7 linked regions of the Homo sapiens genome follow. The protein of the gene in region 7 purifies or fractionates together with the protein of the main gene of each other region. This does not show direct contact. Each region holds a gene or a part of one and is shown on either strand. Other genes may lie near its edges. The genes, in order: C11orf58, RPS6KA3, MVD, SMS, TIPRL, AMDHD1 and GDA.

Region 1 (4,402 bases), on a different chromosome or scaffold from region 7:
AATAGATATTTTCCTGGCACTTGTTTTATATAGTTGACCCTGAACACAGGATTAAACTGTGTGGATCCACTTATACTTGAATATACTTCTGCCTCTGCCACTCCCAGACAGTAAGACAATCCCTCCTTTTCAGCCCACTCAACATGAAAACTATGAAGATGAAGACCTTTATGATAATCCACTTCCAATTAATGAAGAGTCAATTATTTTCTCTTCCTTATAATTTTCTTGATAACATTTCCTTTTCTTTATTGTAAGAATACAGGATATAATACATTTAACACCCAAAATATGTGTTAACTGATAATTATGTTATCAGTAAGACTTCCAGTCAACAGTAGGCTATTAGTAGTTAAGTTGTTGGGGAGTCAAAAGTTATATGCAAACTTCTGACTGCCTGCAGAACCAGCACCCCTAACCCCCACATTGCTCAAGGGTCAACTGTACCTTCTATTAACGTTAACCAAACTGACAGGCATTTCAAAGTATCTTGAACATTTTTAAAATTAAGGTTTTCTTTCCCCCTGGTGTTCTACACATTCAGAGAAACTTCTCTATCTAGTAACAAACTATAGAAATAATCTCTGAAAGTGTAGTCTTAAAATTAAGTTTTTGATAAAGGATATTCCTCTGGTTACTACTTCAAGGGCTGGAGGGAGCTATAAAATATGACAGCCTTTTCACTTTGGCCAGAGGTTCCCACAAGATAACCTACCCAGAAGAAATATATTCTATCAAACCACTGGGCCAACATATGGCAAATCATAAACTTTGACATCTCTTTTCTCCTATACAGCCTCCTTGAACCAAATTTTTCTCTGTACAGTCTTCAAACTATACGGACAGAGAATCCTAGAAGTGGCTCAAAAATAATATAAATTTTATGTGCTTGGTTAGGCCACATGTATTTCCCAAAGCCAAAAGAAATCACACAGAACAGGAAAATGGAATCCAAGTATATTCAGTCCTTCTTACTTAGCATACATAAAAATGGCAATATTTTCACAGAAAAGGTAAAAATGCACACCATCTGATGCTTACCTTTCCTGCACCCATAAGTCTCAAGAACTTTTGTTTTCTCTCTTCATTACCCAAGTCTGCTGCCTCCCAATTGCTAGATCCCAGCTAGAAAAAAAATTGGTTGATTAAATTTTTTTTGCATAAAAATAAGTATTACGAAATCTAAAGTCTACCTGTAACTCTCAAGTTTTTTTCCCCTGTCAGTTGTAACTATAAACAGCGTTCATTTTTCTTGCTTAGGAAGTTAAGCATATTCATCACATTCAAATTTACTCCTTTTCTATTACCTCACAGCAGAATCCTTTAGTTCTCCTACAGCCAGAGCTGAGTCTCAAAAGTTTGCCTCTATCAGCGTCACCTAGAGGGCTTGTTAAAACAGACTGCAGGGCTACAGCCCCAGAGATTCAGCGGGTCTGGGGTGGAGCTCTAGGATTTGAATTTCAACAAATTCTTAAATGATTGCTGATGCTATTTATCTGGGGACCACACTTTGAGACCCACTGCCTCGCAGGGTAGGGTCCTAGAGCACCTAGTACTCTGAACTTAGATGGCAGCCACAGTTGTTAGTTGAAGTTAAAAATTCTGCCTTTATCAGTGAGCTAACTTTTAAGAGAGAAAATTTTAACTTTTCAGTTGCCTTTTTTTTTTTTTTTTTAGCAGTTCTAGTTACTTGTTAGGATTGAGATGTCATTACTTTTATTCTTTCTTAAAAGTCTTCCAAAGAACAAAGAGAAAACTTATTTTTTAAAAGAACAGACTAAAACTCATGCTATCTTGCAATTATCAAATGAGTCCACTGAACTCTTATAAATCTAAGAAATATGATGGAATCCTAGTGAGCGTATTTTTTCCCTACATTTTGAAACAAATGTAAAAACTGTTGTTTTTTAATAGTTTTTAATAGTTCATTATTTATAATTCATTATTTATAATTCATTATTCTCAACTATGCTAAAAATAACTAAATAGTTTTTAAGATATTAGTTTTCTCATTGTATTGTCCAAAGTATTTCATCATCATCTTTCAAGACATCATACCTGTTGTCTACTTTTAGCTTTCACTGAACACCGATGGGAATTCACAATTTTTCATTTTCCATTCATAATGGCAAAGAGAAAAAACTGACAGAAGGCATTAATCATTATTAGACGAAGAAGGTGAATGCAAAATGAAAGGCAGTCGTATTCTAGACTAATCATGATAAAATTAACTGCAAAAATCTCAGACTATGAGTTTTTGGATGAGGAAATATTAGAAGGCTTTTCTCCCACCCAAGAATTGACAAGAAAAAGAAAAAAAAGACAAACAAGAAATGTACTCTCACTGGGAGAGCCATCAGCAGGAAGGACTTCATCTTGCAATATTTCACAGTAAGAGCCAGGATCATCCCATTTTCTAAAAGGAGGTGTGAGTGTTTTATCTCATCTTTTACAATGTTTATGCATCAAAATTTACTTGATTTGGTTGCAAATGGACAAAGGGTGAAGGCAGATGTGTACACAAGGTGACTGGAAGGAAAATGAAATAAAAATATTCACCGAATTTATCATTCTAATTAAGTTTATAATCTAAAAATAAAAATGTTTTGCAATTATGGAGCAAGGATGACAATTACAAAATTGTAAGCAATAGGTTTCAAAAATTCCTCAAGTATTGTATTTTGATGATGCAAATCCGAGACAGGTTTGAACTTCAAGGGTCCCTTATAAGTGGATTTTTTTCAACCAAATGCAGATCCATCCCAAGTATATGGAAGGCTGATTTTTCCTATTCTCAGGTTCCACAGGGCTGGCTGCAGAACTTGAGTATGCAAGATTTGCCAAAGAGGTGGGTGGGTCCTGGAACCAATCCCCCACATTTAGCATACTGAAGGATGACTATATGTACATCAAAATCAGGAAAACAAAGAATATAAATTTCGGTTTGCTATTGTTAAATTCACATTAAAATTCCTAATAAAGTTGTTTTGCACTATCTCCCATTATTATTTCTAAAAATTATTTGTAAAAGACTAAAAGAATATTTAAAAAAACCACTATTTCCCCTGGGCATATGAGAGTTAAAGCATTTGTACCAACCTGGACCCATTTGCACTTCTAAATTCTCATTAGTGGAAGGGCTTATATGCTCTCATAATTTTGGTTCCCTAAGTTCCAAATCTCTACTTTTTTCCATGTGACCCCCCTCATATATTTTTATGGGCCATTTAGTTCTTAACTATTTCTGGCTCAATATAGTTAAAGTAATGGTGAAGCTTCAGTTCTGACAATCACTAAATCACTTGCTCTGTAAGCCAGGATCTGACATTTAACTTAATTTTAACTCCTTATCTATAAAGAGATGCCTTTTTAAAAGACTGTCTTAAGACACTGAGGCACAGAGAGGCTAAGTGACTTCCTTTGATCCTCTGACCATCCTGTGTTTTTTCCACATCATACTGTCCATGATCAAATGAGACAGATGAAAGTGGTCTATGAACTAGTTATAAAAATGTATAGAAGTTAAAAAATTGTGTAAAAACCAACTTTCTTGATTCTGCTTCTATTAAAAAACATTTTCAGTGTTTATATAAATAACTGTCATCTACAACTTCTAATCCCAATGTTTTAAGGAAATAACATTAAGTCCTGCCAGTTCTTCTTTTCAAAGACCTTAAAGCAGCACTCCAGGACCAGACTGGCATCAGGGACCAGTTTCGTGGAAGACAATTTTTCCACTGAGAGGGAGGATGTGATGGTTTCAGGATGATTCAAGTGCATTACATTTATTGGGCACTTTATTTCTATTATTACTACACTGTAATCTATAATGAAATAATTATACAACTCACCATAATGTAGACTCAATGGAAGCTTTGAGCTTGTTTTCCTAAAACTAGACAGTCCCATCTGGGGGGTAATGGGAGACAATGACAGATCATCTGGCATTAGATTCTCATAAGGAGTGTGCAACCTAGATCACTCGCATGTGCAGTTCACACCAGGGTTCACGCTCTTATAAGAATCAAATGCCAACAGGAGGCAGAGCTCAGGTGGTAATGCAAGCCAAGGGGAGTGGCTGTAAATACAGATGAAGCTTTGCTGGCTGGCCCACAGCTCACGTCCTGCTGTGCAGCCTGGTTCTGTGGCCCAGGGGTTGGAGAGCCCTGCCTTAAAGTACAACAGTGAGTACTTGCCCAAATGCTGCATTCTGAAAAGCACGTGGGTGCACTATACATTTTAAGAGAGTTCCTTAGCAGTTACTAAAATTTACCTCCCCACTCTTCCCACTTCCTATAAGATAGCTTTCATTTCTCCACTCCAAGCCAATGAAACGACTTTTAAGTTGTTTTCATCCTTAATACCCTTTACTACAGAACTGCAATCAATTTACCTCCTCAAT
Region 2 (4,402 bases), on a different chromosome or scaffold from region 7:
AGCAAGTTTTCATTCTATACTTACATTCCAGTCTATCGTTGAGAAAAATGAATGTCTTTTAATTTCTTCAACTCCATCTGGTCCTGCACCTATCAAAAATGGATTCACTGATAATTTTATTTCAAGGAGAAATATACATATTGCTCAGCCTTTGTTTTCAATACTTGTCTAATTAATTAATTAATTAATTAATTAATTTTGAGACAAGGGCTTGCTCTGTCACCCAGGCTGGAGCGCAGTGGTGTGATCTCAGTTCACTGCAGCCTCAACCTCTCAGGCTCAAGTGATCCTCCTACCTCAACTTCCTGAGTAGCTGGGACTACAGGCACGCACCACCATGCCTGGCTAATTTTTGTATTTTTTGTAAAGATGAGGTTTTGCCATTTTTCCCAGGCTGGTCTTGAACTCCTGGACTCAAGTAATTCTCCCGCCTTGGTCTCCCAAAGTGCTGGGATTACAGGCGTGAGCCACCAGGCCTAGCCTTGTCTAAATAGTTAATAATTCCACCACAAAACAAATATCTACTCCCCGCTAAAAACAAACACCAACAAACATACAACATAAACAAATTAGTTAAAATTTTTACCTAATCTGTTTGCAGGATTTCGCTTGAAAAGCATTCGTAAAAGACTCTGCGCTTCAGGACTCAAAAACTGTGGCATTCCAAGTTTGGCTCTAAATAATAAATCCACATAATATTTTATTTTTTGGAGGCATCTGTATTTTTATTTTTAAAAATTCTTAAATTAAACTTTTTGAGATACTTGTAGATTCACACTCAGTTGTAAGAAATAATACAGAGAGATCCCCTGTGCCCTTTACCCAGTTTCCCCCAATGGTAACATCTTACAAAACTACAGTACAATATCACATCCAGGATATTGACATGGAGACAATCCAATGATCTCATTCACATGGCACTGGTTTTATTTGCACTTATTTGTGTGTGTGTTTAGTTCTATGCCATTTTATTACATGTATGGCTTCTGTATGAATATGTCACAGTTTATTTATCCATTATCTGTTGAAGGACATTTGGGTTGTGCCCAGTTTGGGGCTAATATGAATAAAGCTACAGTGAACATTTATGTACAGGTTTTCATGTGAACACATAACTGAATTTTAGTTCATAATCTAATAAGCTTTTTCATTTTTCAAAATTTTGCAAAGAGCACTGTGAAAGTAAGATCATTTGAATCCTAGTTCTGGCTCTGTTACTAAGAACTTTGTGACAGTGGGAAAGCCAATTATTCTGGGCCTGTTATCATTTCTTCATAAGCAAAGGGATTGGTCTCTAGACCAATAGCTCCCAAAGTATAGCCTCGGAACTCCTCCTCAAAGGGAATTTAAGAAACCTAACATTTAAAGCTGCTAAGAGAACATGTGTTTCATATGCCACTTTTTCCTTTCTATTCCCTTTAACAGCCCCTGAAGGGAAGGGGAACTGTGGGAAAGAGGATTGTGAAATATTGAAGATACACAGTCTAAAAACTGCTGGCCTAGATGAACTTGAAGGTCTGTTTCAGCTCTAATTTTAATTCTTTTTCCAAACCTACAAATTAAAGAAACCAATGATCCTGTAAGTATGACAATAATAATAGAGCTGGGGAAAATTCCTATTTCAGAAACAGATCCATTTATTATTCAGTGGGTTGTTATTGAGCTATTACATGCCAGACACTGTTTAGTGCTGAGGATACAGAGATAAAGAGAGCCCATGAAACTCATGGTCCATGGTGAAGATGGATACAGATAATGCTAGTACATTAAGAGACAAATGCAGAAGAACATATGCAAAGAGTGACAAGGGAACAGTAGGGGATATTTAATTTAACATGGGAGATTATGAAAGGTCTTCAATGCAATCTAAAGGCTAACAATTTATTCATTTGGCTAGTGTTTCCCCAAATTTTACTGAATAACATTAATCCCTCTAGATAGTTAGCAACAATAAAAAAATTCATGACCCAATGAGCTTGTAGAATGCTATTTATTATATCCCCCTATTAGACACACAGAATTAAAATACACTGCATATAAAAAGGCTGAGAAATCTAGAGCAAACAAATCAGTTTTTTTTTTTTTTTTTTTTAAGACAGAGTATCCAGGCTGGACTGCAGTGGCACAATCTCGGCTCACTGCAATCTCTGCCTTCTGGGTTCAAGGGATTCTCGTGTCTCAGCCTCCCAAGTAGTTGGGATTACAGGTGTGTGCTACCACACCTGGCTTTTTTTTTTTTTTTTTTTTTTTTTGTAGAGATGGAGTTTTGCCATGTTGACTAGGCTGGTTTTGAACTCCTAGCCTCAAGTGATCCTCCCACTTCAGCCTCTCAAAGTGCTGGGATTATGGGTGAAATCAGTATTTTCTAAGTATTTATTTCCAGCACCTCTTTTTCAAAGAATACCTATTAATATCTTGTAGAATTAATATTCTCTTGGACAAATCTGGGGAAACACTATTGTATTAGGTAACAAGGATGCAGCAGAGGTCCTGAAACTGGACTAACATGACTAGACTTATTTTCAAGAAGGTAACTCCAAGGGTAATAGAGAACAATTTGGAGTGGGAAGAGGTCATAAGTGGTAGGCAATCAACTTAGGAATGTGGTCAGATAGTATGGGTAAGAGGTCACTGTTTTCTGAATACTTTAAGCAGTTTAATTCAGAGGAAAGGCTGGAACAGTGAAATAATTCTGAGATCGAATTTGGAGAATACCTAATTATGCAAAAGAGAGAAGGAATAAAAAATGATTTCCTGGTTTCTGGCTTGGAAGAGGGTGCATGAAAATGCTGATAACTGGGAGTATAAGAAAAGAACAGCAAATAAAGATACATTTAGTTCAAAGATGTGAAGTCATGCATGTAATATGTTTTGGGAGGGCCAGGCAGGTGAGTAAATAGAAACACAGGTCTAATGCCTGGTAAATTCATGTAAGAAAGAGTGATTTGAGAGTAATTAAAATGTGGAGGGTAGTTATAGGAAAGACTGAAGTCAGTCAGGAAAGAGTGCAGAGGGGGAAGAAAAGCATATCATAGACGGATCCTGGGGGATAAGACCATTTAAAAGGTAGTCAGAAAAAGAACAATTAGGGCATTAAAAATAATGACTGCAATTGGCTGAATCACACTGATTATTAAATCCCATGAGTTTATTATGTAAAGTAAGAAAAAGCAAAGTCAAAATACAAAAACTCGACTCACTGGATACTACCCCCACTAGGAAGTAACTAGGGCTCTGACATTAGAAACAATTTAAGAAAAGAATTAAGTATTTATTCTCTTTTTCTTGGATGAGCGTTATTTCAAGTAATTAAATCATCATAGTTGATGAGGGAAAGTTTGTTGAGAAAATACCAGCTAATAAATGAGGAAGGAATAATAATAATAATAGAAAATCATGGCTGGTGCATAGTGGCTCATGCCTGTAATCCCAACACTTTGGGAGGCGGAGGTGGGAGGATCACTTGAGCCCAGGAGTTTGAGACCTGCCTGGCAACATAGCAAGATACCATCTGTACAAAAGATTAAAGAACTTGGCTGGGCATGGTGGTGCACCTGTAGTCCTAGCTACTCCAGATGCTGAGGCAGGAGGATCGTTTGAGCCCAGGAGTTTGATGTTGCAGTGAGCTGTAATCATGCCACTGCATTCGAGTCTGGGCAACAGAGCAAGACCTCATCTCCAAAATTTAAACTTTTTTTTTTTTTTTTAAAAGAAAAGCAATTCATCACTTTTGAATTCCTTATAAAATAACTGTTTCAAGTAATGATTATTAATGGATAGAACCATTAGTTAAAAGCATGCCAGGGAACTTTACAACGGAGGAATCAGCTGCAACCACTGGAGCCCATCACTTAAAGTGGGGGCAACCAGGTATTGTAAGCCTCCTGATGTAATAGGGACCACACGGTATTAGCTGTGAAATAATCTTGCTAAAACAGTTTAACCAAAAACAGAATAGAGGATCAAGCTAATAACACTAAGGGAATAAAAAAAAATTTCCATACTCCTAGGAAAAGACTAATTGTTATGTAACCATGGTAACAAGAGAACCACCAGAACTGGTTTTAAATCCTTTCAGTTGGTTTAAAATCCATTGAATTGATCAATGACAACTTGCCTGGTGAACACCTGCAAAGATGAGTAACTGCTCTTTGTCTCTGAAAATTAGCCAAACAGGAATGGACTCACTCCAATAAACACACCTGAATGCCCACTGATCAACAACAGTCCCACCCAAATAATCACATTCTTACAGATAATGTCAACCCACTTATAGACATGAAACTCTGCCACTTCTTGAGCTCCACCCTTCCTCAAAACCCTATATAAGATTAGTGGTCTACTATATTTGGGGAGACTCTAGCCTTACCATAGCAAAGAATAAAATAAACTTTATGCTTTT
Region 3 (4,402 bases), on a different chromosome or scaffold from region 7:
CCGCCCTTCCTGTGGGTCCTGGTCAGAAGGTAAAGCGCCTGAGTGGTGACACCCACACGCAGCTCCTGCAGGCACAGCCGCCCCTGCCAGCTGCGAGCCCCCTGCCCTGGGCACTGCTTCTGTCACAGGGGGGACAGAGAACCACAGAGCCTGGGAACAGGCAGCCCCTGAGAGGAAGGTGGCGGCAATGGCTTGGGCGGCCGTGATCACTGGATGCAAGCTTGGCCCTCGGAGCAGGTCAGAGGGCAGGAACTCCGGTCTGCTGGGGTGGTTGGGGTGGGGGGGTCCCAGGGACCCCAGCAGCCCCCACCCCAGGCGCTCCCTATTCAAGGGTCTGATACTCCCCACCTGTCTCCCTGGGAGCCTGTGTCAGACTCACCCTCCCACCCTCAGCGCAGCCCTGCTGCTCTGAGCATCACCAGTGGCCTGTAATGTCCACTTTGAGAGCAAATGAATGGACAAAGGCGTTCTGGCTTCCTGCCTGAGACACGGTAGGGACAGGGAGCCGCGCTTAGCCTTTAAGGGCCCTGGGGGCTGGGCGGGCCCCCCTGGCAGGAAAGGAAACCCCGGGGTACTGGGTGAGCCCCAGGCCTCACCTGAGTGACAATGATGTATTTGACCCCACCGGGGGTCGGCTCCATGGCCAGCGCAGCCTGAAGCTCAGCTGAGAGAGGGGCCGGCCTCACCTGCAGCCCCTTCAGAAACCTGGAAAAGCAGGGCAGGGGCACGGTGAATGCATCCGTTTCTCTAAGCGTCTACAACAGTCTACAACAGGCAAGTCCAGAGATGGGAAGTGCATTCCTGGCCGTCAGGGCTCAGGGAGGGGGAGACGGCAGGTGGCTGCTGTGGGGACAGGTTTCTTTTAGGGGTGATGAAAAAGTTAAGGAGGTGGCTTGAGGTGGTGCTCACATGACCCTGTGAATGTCCTCAACACCGCAGGATTATATGCTCTCGAATGGCTGAGACAGGAAATTTTAGGTTATGTGGTAAACAGCTATGCCCAGGCTGGACCCACATCTGGCCAAGGGTGCTGCCAAGCCCCATGGGGTAACAGCTCAGGGAAGCGCCCAATTCAAGCTGGTGCGTTCGTCACCGTGTTCTGCAGAACAGCGGAAGCCTGCAAGCCCCACCCGGAGCAGCAGCCACGAGCCTGGTGCTTCCCAGGCGGGCAGTCCTGGGGTGTGGGTCTGAGTCCACCCCACAGGGCAGGCCCCTGACCATTAGAAGGTGTTATTGCTCCCACCCGGGACAGACGCACATCCCCACACGCTTCCAGACACCCTTAAATGGGAGGCGCCTCTCACATTGAGAATAAGACACCATGAAAACACGGGAGGGAAGAAATCAACAGCCCCGGGGCGTAAGGAGGCTGGGCCAAGCTGTGCACCGAGGAGGGCGTACATGGGGGCTCTGTGGCACCCCCACAGAGCAGCGCAGGGGAAGAGGCGGTTCAGGGCCAAGCTGTGCACCGAGGAGGGCGTACATGGGGGCTCTGTGGCGCCAAGATGCAGCTGCCGGACCCCACCCAAGAAAAGACACCCAACTGCCGGGGCGGGGTCAACACCCGGCCGCCTTGACTGGCTCTAACTCGCTTCAGTAAGAAGGAAATCAGGGGCTTTGACTCCTTTCCTTCAAAATGTCGGACACTTACGCACACATCTGGGAGTGCAGGCGTGTTTCCTAAGCCACTGTTCTATAGAATAAGAGCCTGCGGGGTCCCGAGCTGCAGGGGACGCTGTCACTCAGGAGGTGGGAGACCCTGGGCGTTGCTCACACACGCGTGAGCGGCCTCTCTTTCTTCCCTGTGGACGTGGGCTGTGGGATGGCTCTATGGGGACACCCTGCCCGTGGCTCCCACACTCGGGGGACTGCTGCCTGCCCTGGGACTCCCTGTCTCAGCGCCACAGCCTTCAGGTGCCTCCGTCTCTTCCGACCAGAGTTCCTGGCACCATCTCCCAAAAAGGAGGAGGGGCGGGGTCCACACTCACGTGTCTCCATTCGAGCCTGGGGGAAAGCCGTGCCACACAGCAGCCACAAACTCAGCCACAGTGTCGTCCAGGGTGAAGATCACGGCATTGGGGCCCGCGTCAAAGGTGTACGCCACCTGGAACCCACAGCAGTCACCCTGGCTATTCACGTGGTGCCTGACCCTTGTCTCCCCAACCCTCTGGTCTGCCAGGCGGCCTTGGGCTCTCCAAGAGCTCAGTCTAGGCCCTCAGGGCCACACTGGAGTGGAGCTGTGACCCCAAGTGCCTGGTACTTGACACGTCTGCCTGTGAACCCAGGAAGAAGGTGGTGGGGCCGTGACCCGGGCAAGTCAAGAAACAAAATGAAACAGAAGAACCCAGATGGTCAGTGAGCTTCGCACACAGCAGGGTGGAGCTTTCAGACACAGATTGCCCTGCACGCGAGCCCCGGGGCCGTCTCCACGGCAGCACAAGCCTAGACACGCGCTACAGCGCGAGCGCAGCCTCTGCCCTCCCGGCCCGCGTCACCTTGGTGTCCCCGTGGTGGGCGTTGAAGCGGTGCACCAGGTGGATGATGCGCCAGGAGATGGCATTGAGGTAAGAGATGGGCGGGAAGGTGTCGAGGCAGGTGGCGTGGAACTGGTTGCTGTCCTTCATGGTCAGCTGGGCGAAGCTGGGGAAGTCTCGCTCCCGGATGCAGCGGGCCATCTCCGCCATGCGCGCGGGCACCACGGACTCGGCCCGGAACTGCAAGGCACAGGGTGTTTCCCATGGAGCCGCTGGGGGTCTCGACAGCAGAGGGTTCGAGGAGAGACTCCGGGGTTGGAGGCCCGGCTCGAGCCCCATCTCTGCATTTGGCTCCTGCACGTGGTCTTGGCGGGGCTGCCGCAGGTGTGAGAACACTCGGGCCCAGACAGAGGCTGAGGGCAGAGCCGGGCACAAGCGTGACTCCCAGGGCCCCGGGACCACCCGCTCCTGGCCTTACCCGAAGCAGGGGGCTGGTCTCCACACTGGCCCGCATGCCCACGGTACTGCCTGTCAGCTTCTTCTCAGCGCTCACCTGCACGAGGGAGAGACAGCCTGGGCCACACCCTGCAGGGGGCCAGCCCCAAGGACCTCAGCCTCAAACACTCGGCCCTCCCTCAGCCAATGCAGGCAGCGGGGGTGGGAGTCAGTGCCACCTGCCTGACCACAGAGGCCTCCCGGCCACAGCAGGGGTGACGCAGGGGCAACTTCCAGATCCCAGCGGGTGGTGGCGCCCGCCGCATGGGAGCGGTTCCTGAGCACTCAACCACGCTTCTGTTCCTTCAGCCCCCGCTGACCCCAGGAGCCAAGCAAAGCCTGGATGGACGCCTTCGCTCCTGCTCCCGGCAGCAGCCCTGACTAGGGACAGAGGCCACCGGGCTGCTGCTCCACCCGCCCCACCCCACTCACCACAAGGATGAGCACGCGGAGTTCAGGCCAGTGTGACTCGGGGGCCACTTGCCGAGCGATGCTGTCCTTCCCGTCGGCCTGCTCTCCCATCTGCCACTCCACAAAGCCCCCATACAGGCTCCGGCAGGCGCTGCCTGAGCCCCGGCGAGCCACTTCTGAGAGGTCACTCTCCACGCCGTAGACACGGGCCAGGGTGTAGGCTGCAGGCATGCGGATTCAGGGAGGGTCCTCAGAGCTGCCTGCGCTGTGCTCCCTGACAGCTCACCGCCCCAGGAACGTCCCACACCCCACGGCAAATGGGGATTTCCAGATGACAGGGCTTCTGGGCCATCAGCCTTTGAGGCCAGCATTCACCGGCCCAGCCGTCTGTCCCCCACCTCCGCTAGTTCCACTCTCGGACACTCTCTGTTCACGGCCTGCAGAGCTTGCGGCCCGCGACAAGGGCAACAAAAGGTACCTGCGGCAGAGCAGGAAGCCCCATGGAAGGCGGGAGAAAGGCCCCCGAGGACACCCAAGCTGGGCTTTGAGGGTGGGAAGGAATTTTAAGGCTGTGTGGGGCAGGGACCGATGCCAGGACAGAGCTGGACTCCACAAGACGCGCCCCCTGCCCACCCAGCACGGGAGCCACCTTCTCCCCTCCTCCCACAGGGCTCCAGCAGGGCAACCCCACCTCCAGGTCTGGTCACCCACCCTGGTCACCGAGGGTGGTTCAGGGAAGGCGCAGGAGCCCAGGTGGGCCAGGAAGCGTCACCCCTGGAGTTGAGGGGTGAAGATGGTGTGAGACCACCACCGGGGGGACAGGCTCTGACAGTGGGTGGGAAGCTGCCAGCAAGTGGCCTGGGGCCAGCAGAGAGCTGGGTCCAGCGGGGCCTGCAACCAGCTGTGCCCATTGGAATCCTCAGTTACGTGAGCCACAAAATCATCGCTATTTTAGGGCTGAGCCAGTTTGAAGTGGTTTCTATCACTGACAATCTAGAGGGGCTCCACATACAGCAACGGGA
Region 4 (3,500 bases), on a different chromosome or scaffold from region 7:
AAAAGGAACTTAATCTTCTTTTCTCCTCATGAGATGGCTTTAGAGAAGCCATTTTGGAAACTGCTAGGCAGCAGACACAGTATCAAAGTCCTTTGCTCTTTAATCCTCAACTAGGTAGATTATTTGTTTGTTTTTGAGACAGAGTCTTACTGTCACCCAGGCTGGAGTGAAGTTGCGCAATCTTGGCTTACTGCAACCTCTGCCACCTAGGGTTCAAGCAATTCTCCTGTCTCAGCCTCCCGAGTAGCTGGGATTACAGGTGCCCGCCACCATGCCTGGCTAATTTTTGTAATTTTAGTAGAGGTAGGGTTTCGCCATGTCGATCAGGCTGGTCTTGAACTCCTGACCTCAGGTGATCCACCCGCCTCGGCCTCCCAAAGTGCTAGGATTACAGGCATGAGCCACTGTGCCCAGCTGATTATTTCTTTGTTGATGGCCACATAAAAGGGTACTGTTACTAAATTGTCTGTTCAAGGCAGTCTAGGTAACACATTTGCCTCTAGTCTGTGGTAACATTAATTTGAGTTGTGAGACACTGAAGGAAGGAAACAAAAGAAGCCCACTGAACTTGTTCTCTTATACAACAAAGGATATCTCTACCATAGTGACCATCTTTGGTTTTAGTTTGACTATTTCACACAATATGCCTCCGTCTCCACCTCCCAGAATGAGTACATCTTTGCCAGTGTAATCTTCTTTGCCACTGCCCATGATGGCCCGGGTATATGCCAAATCACTCTCTGCCAAATCTAGGGAGGAGAAACAGATCCAAATGGTGAGTCTACCTTAACACACAAACCACCTGGCCCCACCACACTGAAGAGCTGGGATCTAGACCAAAATGTAAATTTTTCATTTTCAATTTTTTAAAACTGTGAACAATTTGCAAGCTTTTTTTCCATTGAGGACTTTTTCATCAACCCTGATCATCTGACACCTAATACAAATGGACATTAGTCAGTGGGAAGAAAATCCAGCCTTAAAAATGTGTCAATATACCGAATAACTAAAAGCAATTACATCTTTACAAATGAAATAATATGATGTCTGTGAGCTGCTTCAAAATAATATGAGAGGGACAAAGTGGACTGGGGTTTAGGTAAAATAAGACTGGCTAGGAGGTGGTAATTGTTCACACTCGATGGTAAGTACATGTGGGTTCATCACACTAGTTTGTCTACTTAGGTTTGAATTGTTCTGTAACAAAAAGGTTTTTTTTTTTAAATATGCAAATGCATTTTCTTTTGAAATACAATCCAAATACTCATCACTAAGGAAGCAATGTCAAGACAAAGTTTATGTGAAAGCCCAGACAATCCACAGGTTAATATGACATAAATGTGCATCTCAAAAACCAGCAGTGTCAAAAACAAACTCAAACAAATCCACGACAGTAGTAATTGTCAGGAAAACACCATCATTCAACACATCACCACTTTGTTACGTGATCGGGGCAGGGATGGAATACTTACTAACATCCCCACTAAGGATGAGAATATTTCCAAACTGCTTCGAGTGTAGAATTTTTATATTTTGATAAGGTGAATCTTCGTCATATACCACTTCATCTATGTCATATTCAACCAGGCGCCCGTCGGCGGTGGGCCAGTATCTGTCGATGGCTCCTCCTCGCACTATGGGTGGTAATCTGGAAAAAGAGAAAAACAGAAATGTACCTTACTAGAACACTGCCTTACAAGTGGAGCTAGGATGAAGAGTGTGCAAAAGAAAGCCACATGACTGCCGACTTTTGACAAGCACAAAACGAATCCAAAGCTTGGGCTTTTAGTTTTATATAATCACGGCCACCACCAAATGTTGACAACTATTGTACACAGTTCACTTTTTAAAAAATCCTGTCATGCTTTAGATTTTCTCTAACAAAAAGCTGAAGGAGAAGATGGCCACTGCACACTTCATATTTCAAATGCTCCAGCAGCATCTGTCTCTTAAGACTATCTACATAACTACATGGACATTACCACATTTACACCAGTTCACATGGGTATGATATGGTTATCTAGTACAGAGTCCATCTTCAAGTGTCCCCAGTTATATCCTTTATAGATGTTCTGCTCTTGAATAAAGGCTCATACACTGCATTTCCCTGTTTTTTTTTTCTTTTTTATCCTCATGTAACGTATAATTTTTTTTTTACTGGTATGTTTCATGACACTGATATCTCCAAGTACAGACCAGCTATTCTGCTGAAAAATGACTCGTGGGTTTACCTGATAATCTCTCACTCTTCATGGTTAGAATCAGGTTGACATATATTACACAGGCATCACATCGGGAACACAAGATGTGTATCTGTCCTATTATTGGTGATGCTAAGTCTGTGATCACTTGGTTAAAGTGGTATTCATGGGCTCTCTCCATTTGCAAAGGTACCTTTTTCACCCTCTGAAATTACTAAGCAGGCTGTGGGGTGGTGCTCTGAAACTAGGTAGAAGTCCTCACCCCCCAACAAACCTTTACCAGTGGTTTTAGCATGCAGAAGATTCTGGCCTGAACCAGTTACTACTACAGAGGCTGCAAAATGATGATTTTTTCATTCATTCTTTTGTAAATACCCGGTATTTTTCACAGGATGAATGTACTAGAAGGTACCAGCAGAGGACACTAAATGACAGGAAAAAAAAGACCTGGAAAAGGGGCTTGGCAAGTCTAACCCAAACACAAAGAAAACGAGAGCTCACTGCATACATAACACAACTGCGTGAGTCATGTGTTCTCAAACACAGTAGTGTTCAACATTAAAACGCCATGATGTACAGCTGTAGACATGTAAAATGCTGGGATATGCGGCCTGACGTACTCTTATGAGTCTCTTTCCCTTCCCTGCTCACCAGCTTCCAAGAGTACAGTCTAAACCTGTTACAAGTTAACAAGGCTTTCTATGAGGGAATACTAACATCTATAAAGAACACCGAGATTGAAAAGGCAAACTCCCATAAATTCATGTCATCCTGACAACTCTTCATTTAACCACTTCTTCACCTTCCATGTGAACAAATTCAGCTTTCAGAATGTGAGGCATTCTAGAGGGTTTTTCTTGTAAATTGTAAAATGTGAAGCACCAATCAGGACAACTGCTAGAGAGCAGGCGAACAGGACTTGGAGGAAGCCTCTTCCACCCCTGGCTGATGGTGGGGAGTGAGGTGAGAGTGAGCCACCCATGGCATTGGATGAACGACAAAGTCACTCACTTCCAGGGGAGGAAGACTACCCTCTCCTTGACAGCCAGCCACCTATCGGCAATTACTGCACTACAGGCAAACCCACTGAAACTAAACAGTGCCTGTTCTCAATTGTGTCAATAGTGCCTTGGCTAAGGTGAAGAGCTCTTTCCTACATTGTAACTCTATGGTTTTTTTAAAGACTAGCAAAGAAAGAAGGATCTTAACAGGATGTAAATGCCATTACCCTGATGAAGTGCTCAACCTAGCATTAAAGGGCATCTCGCTGGTAGCCCTATAACGGGCTACCAGGAGGTA
Region 5 (4,226 bases), on a different chromosome or scaffold from region 7:
TAGTAAGAACTTGGTGTTAGTAGACAATAGGTATTTATTCAGCAAATGGCCAAGCATATTCATTTTAATTAATTAATTAATTTTGGGACAGGGTCTTGCTCTGTTGCCCAGGCTGGAGTGCAGTGTTACAATCATGGCTCACTGCAGCCTATCTCCCAGGCCCAAGCCATCCTCCCAGCTTAGCCTTCCACGTAGCTAGGACTACAGGCTTGTGCCACCGTGCTTTGCTAATTTTTTGTATTTTTTGTAGAGATGGGGTCTGACTCTGTTGCCCAGGCTGGTCTTGAACTCCTGGGCTCAAGTGATCTTTCCACCTCAACCTTCCAAACTGCTGTGATTATAGGTGTGAGCCACCATGCCAGCTAAACATATTCATTTTAAAGACCCAAATACCTCACATTCCATTCAACCGCTCTCTCCCCGCCACCAGGACCCACCTTCATACTTTCTCCACTGATTCTGCCTATCATTAGTAGTTATACTTGGAAAGCAGAGGAATTTGTAGATGTGCCACAGATGAAAGATGTTAAGAATGTGTTATAGTGTTCTGATAAACCAGGTCTTTAGCAATATGTAATAGTGCCTACAGGTTGCACTGAATTAGAGCATTCTGTGTAAGGTCTGTTGCTTTGTTTTATGTAAAGTGAATAGGTGAGTAGTGACAAAGAACTAGGTTGTTCTTTCATTTTGGTTTTATTGGTGTTGACATTTACTATCAGTACCTGCCATTTTTTGAAATAAACATTATAATTTTTACATTACTTGGGTATGTTTTTAAGTCTTTTAAACCTCAATATCTCCTCACCTAGAAAAAATATTTTAGGAAACCGAAACTATGATGTTAAATAGTTTGCACAAGGTTTTGAGGCTAGTTGGAGCTAGGACAAAGAGCTTCTAGTTGAGAGATTTTTATAAACTGTGAATTCAGCCTTATTCCAGGGTTTTTTTGTTTTTTGTTTTCAAATTTTTTCTTTCAGCAAAGTAATAAAATGTTTAATTTTTATTAAAATATTAATGTACCTTTTTTTTTTTTTCCAGAGAGTAATGCCTTCTAGCTTTTTCCTGCTGTTGCGGTTTTTCTTGAGAATTGATGGGGTGCTTATCAGAATGAATGACACGAGACTTTACCATGAGGTATTTATTGTTGTTTAATGAATATACTAATTGATACTGGGCTTGTTTGTGTTGTTTAATTGTCAATCTGAGAATTTGAAATTAAACAATCTATATTATATGGCAGTCTTTCTAACTGTTAAGTCTGAGTGTTTCACATTCACTGTTGACTGCAGGCTATCATCAAAACATTACATTTCCTTTTACAAAGGTTCTGGTGACTCAAAATGTTTTCTAAAAGACACTCCCTAATTGGGGAGGGGTCTTTTGAGACAATTTTGTATGTACTTAATCCATGTTTAAGAAAACTGTCCTTTAACTCTTACCTTTGTTTACAGTATATGTTGTTTATGTAATGTCCTGATGTACATTAATATACAGGAAGTACATTAATATATTAATCAGGCCAAGGCCGGGCGCCGTAGCTCACGCCTGTAATCCCGGCACTTTGGGAGGCCGAGGTGGGTAGATCACCTGAGATCAGGAGTTCGAGACCAGCCTGGCCAACATGGTGAAACCCTGTCTCTACTAAAAATACAAAAAATTAGCCAGGCATGGTGGCACGGACTTGTAGTCCTAGCTGCTACTTGGGAGGCTGAGGTGGGAGGATTGCTTGAGCTGGTGAAGGTTGAGGCTGCAGTGACAGAGCAAGACCCTGTCTCAAAGAAAAAAAAAAAAAAGAAACATACCTAAGTTATACAGTTAGTAGGTGGCAGAATTGGAATTTGAACCTAGTAGGATAGGATTGGATTGATGCTTTCTAAACCCTTCACTTAGGGATTTTTTCTTGAAATAACATGGTTATAGTGATAGACCTTTTTTCTTTTAAAAGTGGTGGCAAAGTACTAAACATAAGCTATATTTTTGTTCCCCAGAAAGAGAAATCTAAATTTTATTTTTATTTATTTATTTGAGATGGATGGAGTCTTGCTCTGTTGCCCAGGCTGGAATGCAGTGGCGCGATCTTGGCTCACTGCAACCTCTGCTTCCTGAGTTCAAGCAATTCTCATGTCTCAGCCTCCCTAGTAGCTGGGATTACAGGCGCCCACCACCACACCTGGCAATTTTGTTGTTGTTGTTTTTAATGGAGTGATGGGGTTTCACCATGTTGGCCAGGCCGGTCTTGAACTCCTGACCTCAAGTGATCCAATTGCCTCGGCCTCCCAAAGTGCTGGGATTATAGGCGTGAGCCACACCGCTCCTGGCCTAAATGTTAAAAATACTGTTTTAATTAAACAATATTGAATTTTAGGAATTTATCCTAAAAAGATTCTTTTATATAATAATCTACTAATATTAATTGGGCAATTACTCAGAGTTATACGTACATGAATATTCACAGTAGTATTGTTTATAATAGCAGAAAGGAAGGAAAGTAGGAACTTAATGCCCATTAAATGGCCATTAATTAAATTGTTTATATCCATATGGTATAAAATATATAATTATTAAAATTGGTTGCAGAGATTGATATTTAAGTAATTTTGAAAGATATTCATTTCAGTGTTGAACTTTCAAAAGCAAGTATGAATCTACTTACATAAGATTCTCTGTAGAGATTTCTAAGTATTAAAGATAGTGTTACCTATAAGCTGTGATCACTGATGATTTATACTTTTATATTATTTGATTTTTTTCCTACAGTGACTATTAATCTGTTTTTATTAATACAAGAGAGTGAAACCTTAAAGGCATATAATTTTGTGGCTTTTCTTTTATTGAAAAGTGTTTCAAGAAGTAAATTATAATAAGTTGCTGTTCTAAAACCTAACCAAAAATCTTAAATGGGAAAAATTGAAGTACAAAAAAGGTGATTTTAAGTAAGCTATTTGGTAAGAGCTTTATGGAATGGGAAAGAATAAAAATTTTAAAGCATGTTTTGCAACATAAAAGTAGCACAATTACGTAGGTAAATGATAAGATAGCTTAAGGGAAAGATGTTTCAAACTTGAAGTAATTTTAAAATCTCTTGCATATTTCATTTATACAAATTCATTATATACATTATTCATTTATATACATATTCTTTCAAAGTAAAATCTTTGCTATGTTTCTCTTACATGGTAATTATAAAATCTGTTTACATATGTGTATCATCATTATAATGTATAGAAATTGGAAATAATAATCCAATTTGAGTTAAATAGGAGTTATCTCAGTGTAGAACAAGATGTTCTCTTTAGACTGCATGCTGTTTTGACAACCTATCCTAAAATGTAGGCAGTCTGTTTTTAATACAAAGGATTTTGTAAATCAGTATAATTAAATTTATTGCAACTGTTTATTTTTAAATACAGGCTGACAAGACCTACATGTTACGAGAATATACGTCACGAGAAAGCAAAATTTCTAGTTTGATGGCAAGTACTTAAATTTCAGTTTTTAGAAGTTAATTTTAATGTTTCATTTTAATTTAAGTAGCATATACCCCTGACCCCAACCACCCAAGTTTACATCCCTAAACCCATTCATTCACCTAATGGGGCTCTATAGGATAAATTCTATGGGAGCATAACTTTTCTGACCTTACCTCAAATACAAGAACATTTAGAGCTGCTAGGTACTTAAGCCTCATCTAATCTAATTTTCACATTTTGTTCTAGAGAAATTGAAACCCAGAGGTGTGACTTACTCTGAGTCACATAGCTGGCTGGTGATGGATGTTCTTTACACTTACCACCCTGCCGCCTTATTTCTTTCTACATAGTCTCCTTTTCTCTTCCGAAAATGTGGTGATTCTGTACCATAATTTGTTTGTTTTGGCATCATTTTTCTTTATTTTTTACTCCCCGGGACCTGTGAAGCCTTCCTTAGAACTTAGGATTCTATAATGGGTTGCTTAAAAATTGGTACCTTCCTATAAACTTGATTTTATTTTTTCACGCTTAGTATGTACTTCTGTCTGGGTATAGAGTATACTTGGAACAGAAAAGTTACTACTTAGATTCTATTGTAGACTACATGCTGTGCTCTAACCGAAGACTAGTGTTTTCAAGTTACAAAAGCAGGAGATACATAGGGTTGGATTAAGATGTATTAAATTCTTAGGACATTTGTGGGAACATTATAGATTATATAACCCTGTGATCTTTGATGAAATCATTCAGTAACAA
Region 6 (4,402 bases), on a different chromosome or scaffold from region 7:
AGACCGAGATCAGCAGATCGCTTGAGATCAGGAGTTTGAGACCAGCCTGACCAACATGGTGAAACCCTGTTGCTACTAAAAATACAAAAATTAGCCAGGCATGATGGTGCATGCCTGTAATCCAGCTACTTAGGAGACTGAGGCAAAAGAATTGCTTGAACCTGGGAGGTGGAGGTTGCAGTGAGCCAAGATCACACCACTGCCCTCCAGCCTTGGTGACACAGTGAGACTGTCTCAAAATAAACAAACAAATGAAAACCCATCAGTTAGAAGCTCTGTCAGATGTGTACAATAAATATTTAAAAGTATAAAAATTTTATATAAAAAAATATAAATATGAAGCCCTTTTGTTTGTGTAGAACTGAAAGTTTGTGAAACTTGTTTTGGATGATTATATGAAGCCATACAACATAATGTAGGAGATGATGGTTAATAAACTGATTCTGTTGTCAATCATCAAAGATACAAGTGAACTGCAGTGAAAGCTCTAGGATTTTTGTTTTTCTTTTTCTGCCCAGAGCTGGATCCTTTGTTTCACATCCTATACAAATTTAGAGTATTTCTAGTATTAGAGACAGCAGCTGCCTTGTTAGCCTCTCCTATGCCATGGATTAATAAAGTTCTTTTGACTGTTTTTGAACCTAAACACAACACAGCTGGTTTCTATTCAGCATGTGAGTGGGAAGAAGTGGAGTCGAATGAATGGGCTTGATTCCTAGGTTGTCTGTTTCCTGTTTAGGAACCTTGGGTAACATATTTCACCCTTAGCTTCAATTTTCTAATCTGTAAAGTATAGATAATGATACCTCCCACACAGGGCAGTTATAAGGATTCAAGGTGAAACCATGTTTGAAAGCAGCTATACATTCAATAATAGAAATTCAATACATGGAACGATGATTTTTTTTAAATATTATTTTGAGACTTTAAAATAAGCTGTTACTCTTCCTCTTTACATTTCAGGAGCAACTGTTAAAGCTACTTGTAGACCTTTACTGAAAAAGAGGTAAATACCTGGTAGAATACATTTCCCAGAGCAGTCAATTATTTCTTCAAAAGTTTCTCCAGAAAACTGTCTTTGAATAACATCAGCAGGACCAATAGCTTTTATAAATCCATCTCTGAAGAAAAATCAAGAAATAGTTATTAAATTTGGGGAAATCTTGTGAGAAATCTGATGAGTGACTTAAAATATGTTTTCAGATTCTTTGGTGTTAATTAGTCAACATTTACTGTGCTTCTATCTTGAACCTGAGTCTGGAAAAGCGTCTCTAGCCACATTCGAGGCAACCATAAAAGACCCAGATTAGCCAAAGCCTCCTCAGCAAAATGAACAAAACTGGAGGAATCACATTACCTGACTTCAAATTATACTACAGAACTATAGTAACCAAAAGAGCATGGTACTGGCATAAAAAACAGACACATAGACCAGTGGAACAGAATAGTGAACCCAGAAATAAGTCCATACATCTACAGTGAACTCATTTTCAGCAAAGATGCCAAGAACGTACATTGGGGAAAAGACAGTCTCTTCAATAAATGGTGCTAGGGAAACTGGCTATCCATATGCAAAAGAATGAAATCAAATCTAAATGGGTTAAAGACTGAAATCTAAGAACTTAAACTATGAAACTACTCAAAGAAGACCTTGGGAAAACTCTCTAGGACATTGGTTCAGGCAACAATTTCTTGAGGGATACCCCACAAGAACAGGCAACCAAGCCAAAAATGGACAAATGGGATCACTTCAAGGTAAAAGCCTTCTGTACAGCAAAGAAAATAATCAACAATGTGAAGAAACAACCCACAGAATGGGAGAAAATAATTTGCACACTATCTAATTGACAAGGGATTAAAAACCAGAATATATAAGGAGCTCAAACAGCTCAATAGGAAAAAACCTAATAATCTGATTAAGAAATGGACAAAAGATCTGAATAGACATTTTTCAAAAGAAGAGATACAAATGGCAAACAGGTATATGAAAAGGTGCTCAACATCAATGATCTTCAGAGAAATGCAAACAAAACCACAATGAGAGATCATCTTACCCCAGTTAAAATGGCTTTTATCCAAAAGACAGGCAATAAAAAATGCTGGCAAGAATGTGGAGAAAGAGGAACCCTTGTACACTGTTAGAAATGTAAATCAGTACAGCCACTATGGAGAGTATGAAAGTTCCTCAAAAACTAAAAATAGAGCTACCATATGATCCAGCAATCCCACTGGTAGATCTATATGCAAAAGAAAGGAAGTCAGTATATTAAAGAGATGTCTGCATCCCATGTTAATTGCAGCACTATTCACAATAGCCAAGATTTGGAAGTACACTAAGTGCCCACCCACAAATGAATGGATAAAGAAAATGTAATACATACACACAATGGAGTACTATTCAGCCATAAAAAAGAGTGAGATTCTGTCAATTGCAACAACATGGATAGAACTGGAGGACATTATGTTAAGTGAAATAAGCCAGGCACAGAAAGACAAACTTGGCATATTCTCATTCATTTGTGGGAGCTAAAAATGAAAACAATTGAGCTCATGGAGATAGAGAGTAAAATGATGGTTACCAGAGGCTGGGAAGAATAGAAGGGGAGAGGAGAAAAATGGGGATTGTTAATGGCTAGAAAAATATGGTTAGATACAGTGAATAAGACCCAGTATTTGATATCACAACAGGGTGACTACAATCAGCAATAATATGTTGCACATTTTAGAATAACTGAGGGAGTACGATTGGAATGTTTGTAACACCAGGAAATGATGAATGCTTGAGATGATGGAAACCCCATTTACCCTGATATAATTATTACACATTGTACGACTGTTTAAAATAACTCATGTACCCCATATATATGTACCCATGAAAATTTACAATTAAAAAAACTTTAAACGTCAAATATATGTAGCAGACAATTGCCATTTGTTCCCCAAGATCAATGTTCCCTTTTTTACACTAGTAGAGCCCTAAATTTTAGCTGGACACATGATGACCCAAAATACAGACTACATTTCCCCACCTCCCACTAGCCAGGTGTGGCTATGAGACTAAGGTCTAGCCGGTAAGATTGTCTTCTCTTCCTATTCTTACTGGCTGGAATGCAGACACCACAACTAGAGATGGGGTGGCCATCTTGGGTCATGGAGTGAGTGTAAGAAAGTGGGCCATGCATGGGAGAGCAAGGCAGCAGGGGCCTGGCTCCTAAGGACCCCATGGAGTATTGCAATCAACTAGCCCTGCATTCGTATGTCTGGATTTTCACATAGGAGAGAAATATACTTCCATCTTGTTTCAGCCACTATTAATTTAGGTCTTGGTCACTTACAACAAATTCGTATTTCCAACATGGAGATTGAGGGCTATAAACCTGAGAGCTGGAATGTGTTGTGAAAAGCAATTAGGATAAGGGATTCCGAACTGGGACAGAAGTGGTTGGGGTAACCTAACAAAATGTAAGAGTGGAAGAGCAGAAGAAACTGGATGGAAAGAGAAGATGTTATGATAGGAAAAGAAATAATGATTGTGGGAGATTTGGGGAGGATAAACTTAGGGTGGAATAAGAAATTAAGTCTTGAAATAGAATTTAGTATCCTGATTAAGACAATTCTTCATCACTAACAGCTTTTATCTGGCCCAGTTAGATAATCTACCCAGTGTGCAGTGAATCTGGTGGTGGAAAGGACCGGCAGGATTAGAAATTGACCCTTGAATGGGAAAGAACAAAGAGAATGCTCTTATGCAAAGAGTTAATGACTGACACTGCTTTAAGAGAGGTTGTTTTAACAAAGTCAAACCTAAGAAATAAATCTCTAACATTCTCCGTCTGTGCAGGAGGTGAATTTTGAGGGCACTGGGTCCTCTTCCTGACCCCACTAATCCCATGCTTATCTACCTTTCAACAGTGTGGTTCTCTCATTCATCTGTGGATGTACCTATGTTTGAACAAAGGCTTATGTTCCTTTGTTGAGGACATAATGAGGGCAGTTATTGAAGGAAACCAACAAAAAGCATTCCCCCAAAAGTGTTTTTTTAAGGTAGTCATTAAAATTACAAAGATACATATTACTGCTATGGTGAGATTTTCACTATTTATGACTAAGTGAAAAAACCCGAATACAAAACAATATGCATAGCTTCCTTTTCTAAAGCATGCATTTTTATGTGATTCTATTTGCATAGGAAAACATCTGAAAGCAGAAGCACTAAATGTTGGTATTAGTTCACCTAATGATGGGGTTTGAGTGACTTTTTCCTTTTTGTTCATCTGTATTTTCTTTTCCTACAATGAACGTATATCACATATACTTTTTTAGGGGATACAAATAATAGGCACATGTGGTTTTATTTACTTTGTATTCTGAGAAATTTAGGAAGAAAAATTCTGCAGAGTCT
Region 7 (4,402 bases):
AAAAAGTGACAAATAAGATTGGCTTGGAAAAGTGCCTCTCCACAATTCAGAAAGTCAACCTACATTAGGCAAAGGCAACATTTCAAAGTGCAGAAAATCTGGCCCCAGGTATAGATAATGCCTGTGGTACAGAAAAAAAAGCATACATAACATTCAGGAACACCGCACTTGGAGAAATAAAACACATAAGTTATAAGTGATGTGGAGAGATCAAAGTACATATAAATATTTCAACACATCCTATTTTTACTAGGAAAGATATTCAGGTCTTAACACACTATCAGAGCTAAATTTAAATGTTTAACAGGATGGTTGTATACGGCCATTCCTACTGCTTCTGATGCTACACTTATTTATATTTACTGCACATGAGTCCTAAGTCTACATGAAAACTGATGTTCAACATCAAAATGTACACCCTTAAAGAAGGTAAAAGTGTAGGATCTTGCAAATGCTAGAAGCAGCTACTGCCTGTAAGTGAATCTTACACATCTCATCTAAATTCCTAAGCCTGCTCATTTGGTTAGACACCATGTAATCAAGTTCCTTTGGCAGGGGTTGAGTGATAAAGCTGAAGATTTTTGCTAGCCCCGTAGAGAAATGGGGAGAAATTTGGCAAGGCATCTTTGACGTGGCTCAGGAATTAGAAATATTGGAAATACAGACTAAGACTGGAAATTGGGTTTACTAAGATACTTATCTCACAAAACAAACTCTGTTGTTTATTAAAAAAATAAAACTAACTTTTGTTCCCTCTTTAGGTGTCATGTATACATAATCAAATCTAAAAGTATTTCTATTAGGGAAAAAACTGGGCCAATTACTGCTAAATTAGCTAAGTATGTGAAAATAAAATTTATACTACAGGAGGGGGAACTGTGTTTTTTTGTTCTGTAAATACGGAGTTAGCTATATTACATAAAGTTTCTACTATAAGGTAATATTAAAGAGTCACCCCTAAGCTCTAGGAATGAGTGTTATAATATATTAAGAAAGTCTATTCCTTTTCCTTGCTCATTTATAGTATTTGTAATTAAATAAGAAAAATATAGAATTTAAATAACATTCACACCAATACTTAAAGATTTATCATAAGGTCATAATTTGGTTTTAATTCTAGGTTATGGAAGCATAAAAATAGTCTTTGCTTTGTAATGTTCCTAGATGTCTAGTAAGAATTAAGTCCTATTAACATAAATATTAAGTAGGACATTATGTACTCTTCATTATCCTAAAATTTTAATATCCTAAACATTATAAGGAGTTAAACAGAAAACTGGATAAAATTAGAAAATAGAGTGCTTTCAATACACAGGGTTTAAAGATTTTTAACAATATTTCTTTAACAGGATTTGTCCTTCATTTTAAAGTTCTAGCAGACTGATATCTGAGTATGGAATTTCCAGAAACTACAACATATTGTTTGGGTGGAATAGGCCATGGCAATGGAACCTGTCCTGTTAGTATTGGCGGCTCCTGGATGCCAGCATTTGCCCCAGTTCACGAAGACTCCAGTCTACATAAATTCCATAAAGCATGGAATTTGTTTCTCTTCTAATAAAATGGAAGCAATAACATCTCACAGTTATAAGTTGATTTTAAAGTACACAAAAATACAACTATTTATGCCATGGAGTTACATGAATAATATTCCTAAGAGACTTTAAATCTTTAATACCCAACTTCTGTCAAACACTTTGAAGCACAAAACTATATTATGAAAGCATGTGGCATTCAATTTCTGACATTCATCGCCAAAGAAGGCAAAGCACAACACTAACACATCTCTGAAATGCAAATTCCATTAAGTGCAAATTTCTAAAACACAAGGTCAACCTAGAAACACGTTTTAAATTTCAACAAGTTCTCTTTTTAAATTAGTATGCTCAGTATATAATTTTCAAACACAATCTGAAGTGATTTTCTAACGTTTGTTCTCAGTCTAACTTTTGCTCCCTCATAAAAATATACTCTCATGGGTCCATTTTCAGTCTTCTAATTTTTGCAATTATTAGCTCAAAATATCTAACCTTTTAGGAACATCTTTTCTTTCCACATTTTCAAATATGAAAAAGGCTTTGCTTAAGTCTTACCGTAGGAACACCACCAGTAATAGCATTCCCTTCTGTTTGAGCTTAAAGTAAGTCTGAGCAGCTCCAAAGGGAGATATTTTCATGAAATTTATGAACCCTCTCAACCAGAGTTGAGAATTAGTGCAACTTCCTTCGAACTATTTGTCAAGTGAATACTGTAACTAGACACAGAAAGGGATAGTCATCCCAAGAACAAGGTACTATTTTTTGACTTTCTAACTCCACCTGGGCACAAGGGAGATGCAGAACCACGCTAATCCCAGGAGAACTTTGTAGACGCCCGAGGGTCTTACACTGAGCTGGAAAACGGAACCACCTGCTTTCCGCCCACATAAACCTCTTCAATATTTCGATCATCTCCTGAAAGAAAAATCAAGGAATCATGTATAAAATCCTTTTGTGTCAATAAGTATCTTCCTTGCCATTGGGAGAGATTTTTTTTAAAGATACTTCTAGGAGAGGAAATACTAAAAGCTGCTTTCCCCCAACCCTCAGATTGTTTATAATCTGAACAGGAAGATATGACTAGTAGAAAATGCCATAGCTAATTTGATGATTAGGGTCTGAATTCTGCACCAGAGGCAGAAATCACATAAAGTTGAATCAACCCCCTATAGCTGTCCTTTCTCAGCTGAAGTGGTTGGTTTACATTTTGCCCCCACTGAGAAAGAAATACTACTCTTTACGCTCCAGAATCAGCTCCACAAGAAGTAACACATGCATCTTTCCATCTTGAGTTCACTCAGTCCTGGGCTCACTGAACAGAATGGGAGGCAGTGTAGAATATTCTGCATTACTGTTTCTCTCTCTCTCAGTGAATGGAATTGAATGTGAGTACATCACCAGCACGTGTGGTGAGACTCTACTATACATTTGTCACAAAAACATGGCAGGGCAGTATGTCAGATACCGAATGAGTACAAGAGGGTTGAACATGAAGATCTCTTCACCTTTGGCCTTCCATTCCTCAGCTTAGAATTTATGACTAGAGGGAGTCATGTGCATTTCAAATAGAACCTTTAAATAATGTGCCACCAATGGGCTTGATGCTTCAGACTGTTAAAAAAATAATGAATCAAAGCAAATTATCATCCACAGAGTTTAATATATGGTAGGATAAATACATAGAGCCATACCCAAGAAAAAGACAGGGAAAGGTTCTATTTAATATTTAGCATAGAGACATGCATCTACCTACCTAGATAGAGGAACTTCTGGATAACAGCCTAAAATGGAAAATAAAAGTAATAAGAAAGACTCATTTGTGCATTTAGAAAAGTAAATTCACAGCTGATAGTGGTTGACAAAGCCCAGAAATACGAATTTGTTTCTCAATGGCAAAATCTACTTCTATTAATTAAAAAAGAAGTGGCTATGTGCTTTATAAAAACCTCCCAGAACAAAAAATAACCCACTGGCAATTAACAGAAGTTTACCTATTGTGTGAAAGTTCTGGGTATGTGAATTTTGAGTCATCAGAGAAAAGGTATTATATAAATTAAAGAAATTAATTTAGTAAAATAATTCAAATATTTCAAGACGGGTATGATGTAAGACAAGCTCATCCAACCTGCCTTATTTTGTTGTTGTTGTTCTGTTTTGTTATGTTTTGTTTTAGGCTTTTAGCAGCCTGAAGCCATGGTTTTTAGTTTCTGTCTCTACTGATAAGCAGAAAAGAGGGATGAGGGAGGGGGCTTTACTGGCACAACCTGAAACAGAAACTAAGAACTCCCTTGGACACCCCTGATATAAGAAAAATCACTAGGACTATTCCCTAGAGCCCTATTCTTAGAAATTTACTCTAATCAGAGAGTAAAAGAATAAGCAATATGAAAATAATGAGGGGGTCAGGACACGCTACCCTCAAATCAAACACAGGAAGGTCACTCTGACCCTCCCCTTACCCCTTACCCCAATGCAGGTCATAAGACCATCACGTAAGGGGTGCCCTCCCTATACCTGATCTCTGAAGCTAAAGGATCACAGAGAAGAATCTGAACAAGCAGGCCTTGCTAAGTTCTCTCTAGCTTATTACCACTGGACCACACTCTTTGTCCTATCATATTTCTCTACAACTTTCCACTCTTCATCAAACCTAGCATAAAAATATCCAAGTTTACCTGTTTCTTGGGTTCTTCACTTCCTTATGAAGGCACCTATGTCACATAAAATTTATATTAAATAGGCCGGGTACAGTGGCTCACGCCTATAATCCCAACACTTTGGGAGGCCAAGGCAGGTGGATTACCTGAGGTCAGGAGTTCAAGACCAGCTTGGCCAACATGGTGAAACCCTGTCTCTACCAAAAA

The links.
Region 1: the proteins of GDA (region 7) and C11orf58 fractionate together in Homo sapiens (co-fractionation; one large-scale study listed by BioGRID). This does not show direct contact.
Region 2: the proteins of GDA (region 7) and RPS6KA3 fractionate together in Homo sapiens (co-fractionation; one large-scale study listed by BioGRID). This does not show direct contact.
Region 3: the proteins of GDA (region 7) and MVD fractionate together in Homo sapiens (co-fractionation; one large-scale study listed by BioGRID). This does not show direct contact.
Region 4: the proteins of GDA (region 7) and SMS fractionate together in Homo sapiens (co-fractionation; one large-scale study listed by BioGRID). This does not show direct contact.
Region 5: the proteins of GDA (region 7) and TIPRL fractionate together in Homo sapiens (co-fractionation; one large-scale study listed by BioGRID). This does not show direct contact.
Region 6: the proteins of GDA (region 7) and AMDHD1 fractionate together in Homo sapiens (co-fractionation; one large-scale study listed by BioGRID). This does not show direct contact.

What each region holds. Positions count from the first base shown.
Region 1 is NC_000011.10:16,741,324-16,745,725, reverse strand, and holds part of C11orf58 (small acidic protein), read right to left. Parts: exon of another isoform or gene 2,059-4,402; intron 1,126-2,058; coding exon 1,042-1,125; intron 1-1,041.
Region 2 is NC_000023.11:20,176,410-20,180,811, forward strand, and holds part of RPS6KA3 (ribosomal protein S6 kinase alpha-3), read right to left. Parts: intron 676-4,402; coding exon 587-675; intron 108-586; coding exon of another isoform or gene 90-107; coding exon 25-89; intron 1-24. UniProt on the Homo sapiens protein: Serine/threonine-protein kinase that acts downstream of ERK (MAPK1/ERK2 and MAPK3/ERK1) signaling and mediates mitogenic and stress-induced activation of the transcription factors CREB1, ETV1/ER81 and NR4A1/NUR77, regulates translation through RPS6 and EIF4B phosphorylation, and mediates cellular proliferation, survival, and differentiation by modulating mTOR signaling and repressing pro-apoptotic function of BAD and DAPK1.
Region 3 is NC_000016.10:88,652,704-88,657,105, forward strand, and holds part of MVD (diphosphomevalonate decarboxylase), read right to left. Parts: intron 3,602-4,402; coding exon 3,402-3,601; intron 3,028-3,401; coding exon 2,953-3,027; intron 2,715-2,952; coding exon 2,496-2,714; intron 2,105-2,495; coding exon 1,989-2,104; intron 706-1,988; coding exon 597-705; intron 1-596. UniProt on the Homo sapiens protein: Catalyzes the ATP dependent decarboxylation of (R)-5-diphosphomevalonate to form isopentenyl diphosphate (IPP).
Region 4 is NC_000023.11:21,975,209-21,978,708, reverse strand, and holds part of SMS (spermine synthase), read right to left. Parts: intron 1,649-3,500; coding exon 1,473-1,648; intron 750-1,472; coding exon 595-749; intron 1-594. UniProt on the Homo sapiens protein: Catalyzes the production of spermine from spermidine and decarboxylated S-adenosylmethionine (dcSAM).
Region 5 is NC_000001.11:168,195,509-168,199,734, forward strand, and holds part of TIPRL (TIP41-like protein), read left to right. Parts: intron 1-1,038; coding exon 1,039-1,134; intron 1,135-3,410; coding exon 3,411-3,473; intron 3,474-4,226. UniProt on the Homo sapiens protein: May be a allosteric regulator of serine/threonine-protein phosphatase 2A (PP2A). Isoform 1 inhibits catalytic activity of the PP2A(D) core complex in vitro. The PP2A(C):TIPRL complex does not show phosphatase activity.
Region 6 is NC_000012.12:95,949,436-95,953,837, reverse strand, and holds part of AMDHD1 (probable imidazolonepropionase), read right to left. Parts: intron 1,122-4,402; coding exon 1,015-1,121; intron 1-1,014.
Region 7 is NC_000009.12:72,246,323-72,250,724, reverse strand, and holds part of GDA (guanine deaminase), read right to left. Parts: intron 3,320-4,402; coding exon 3,292-3,319; intron 2,454-3,291; coding exon 2,383-2,453; 3' UTR 1-2,382. UniProt on the Homo sapiens protein: Catalyzes the hydrolytic deamination of guanine, producing xanthine and ammonia.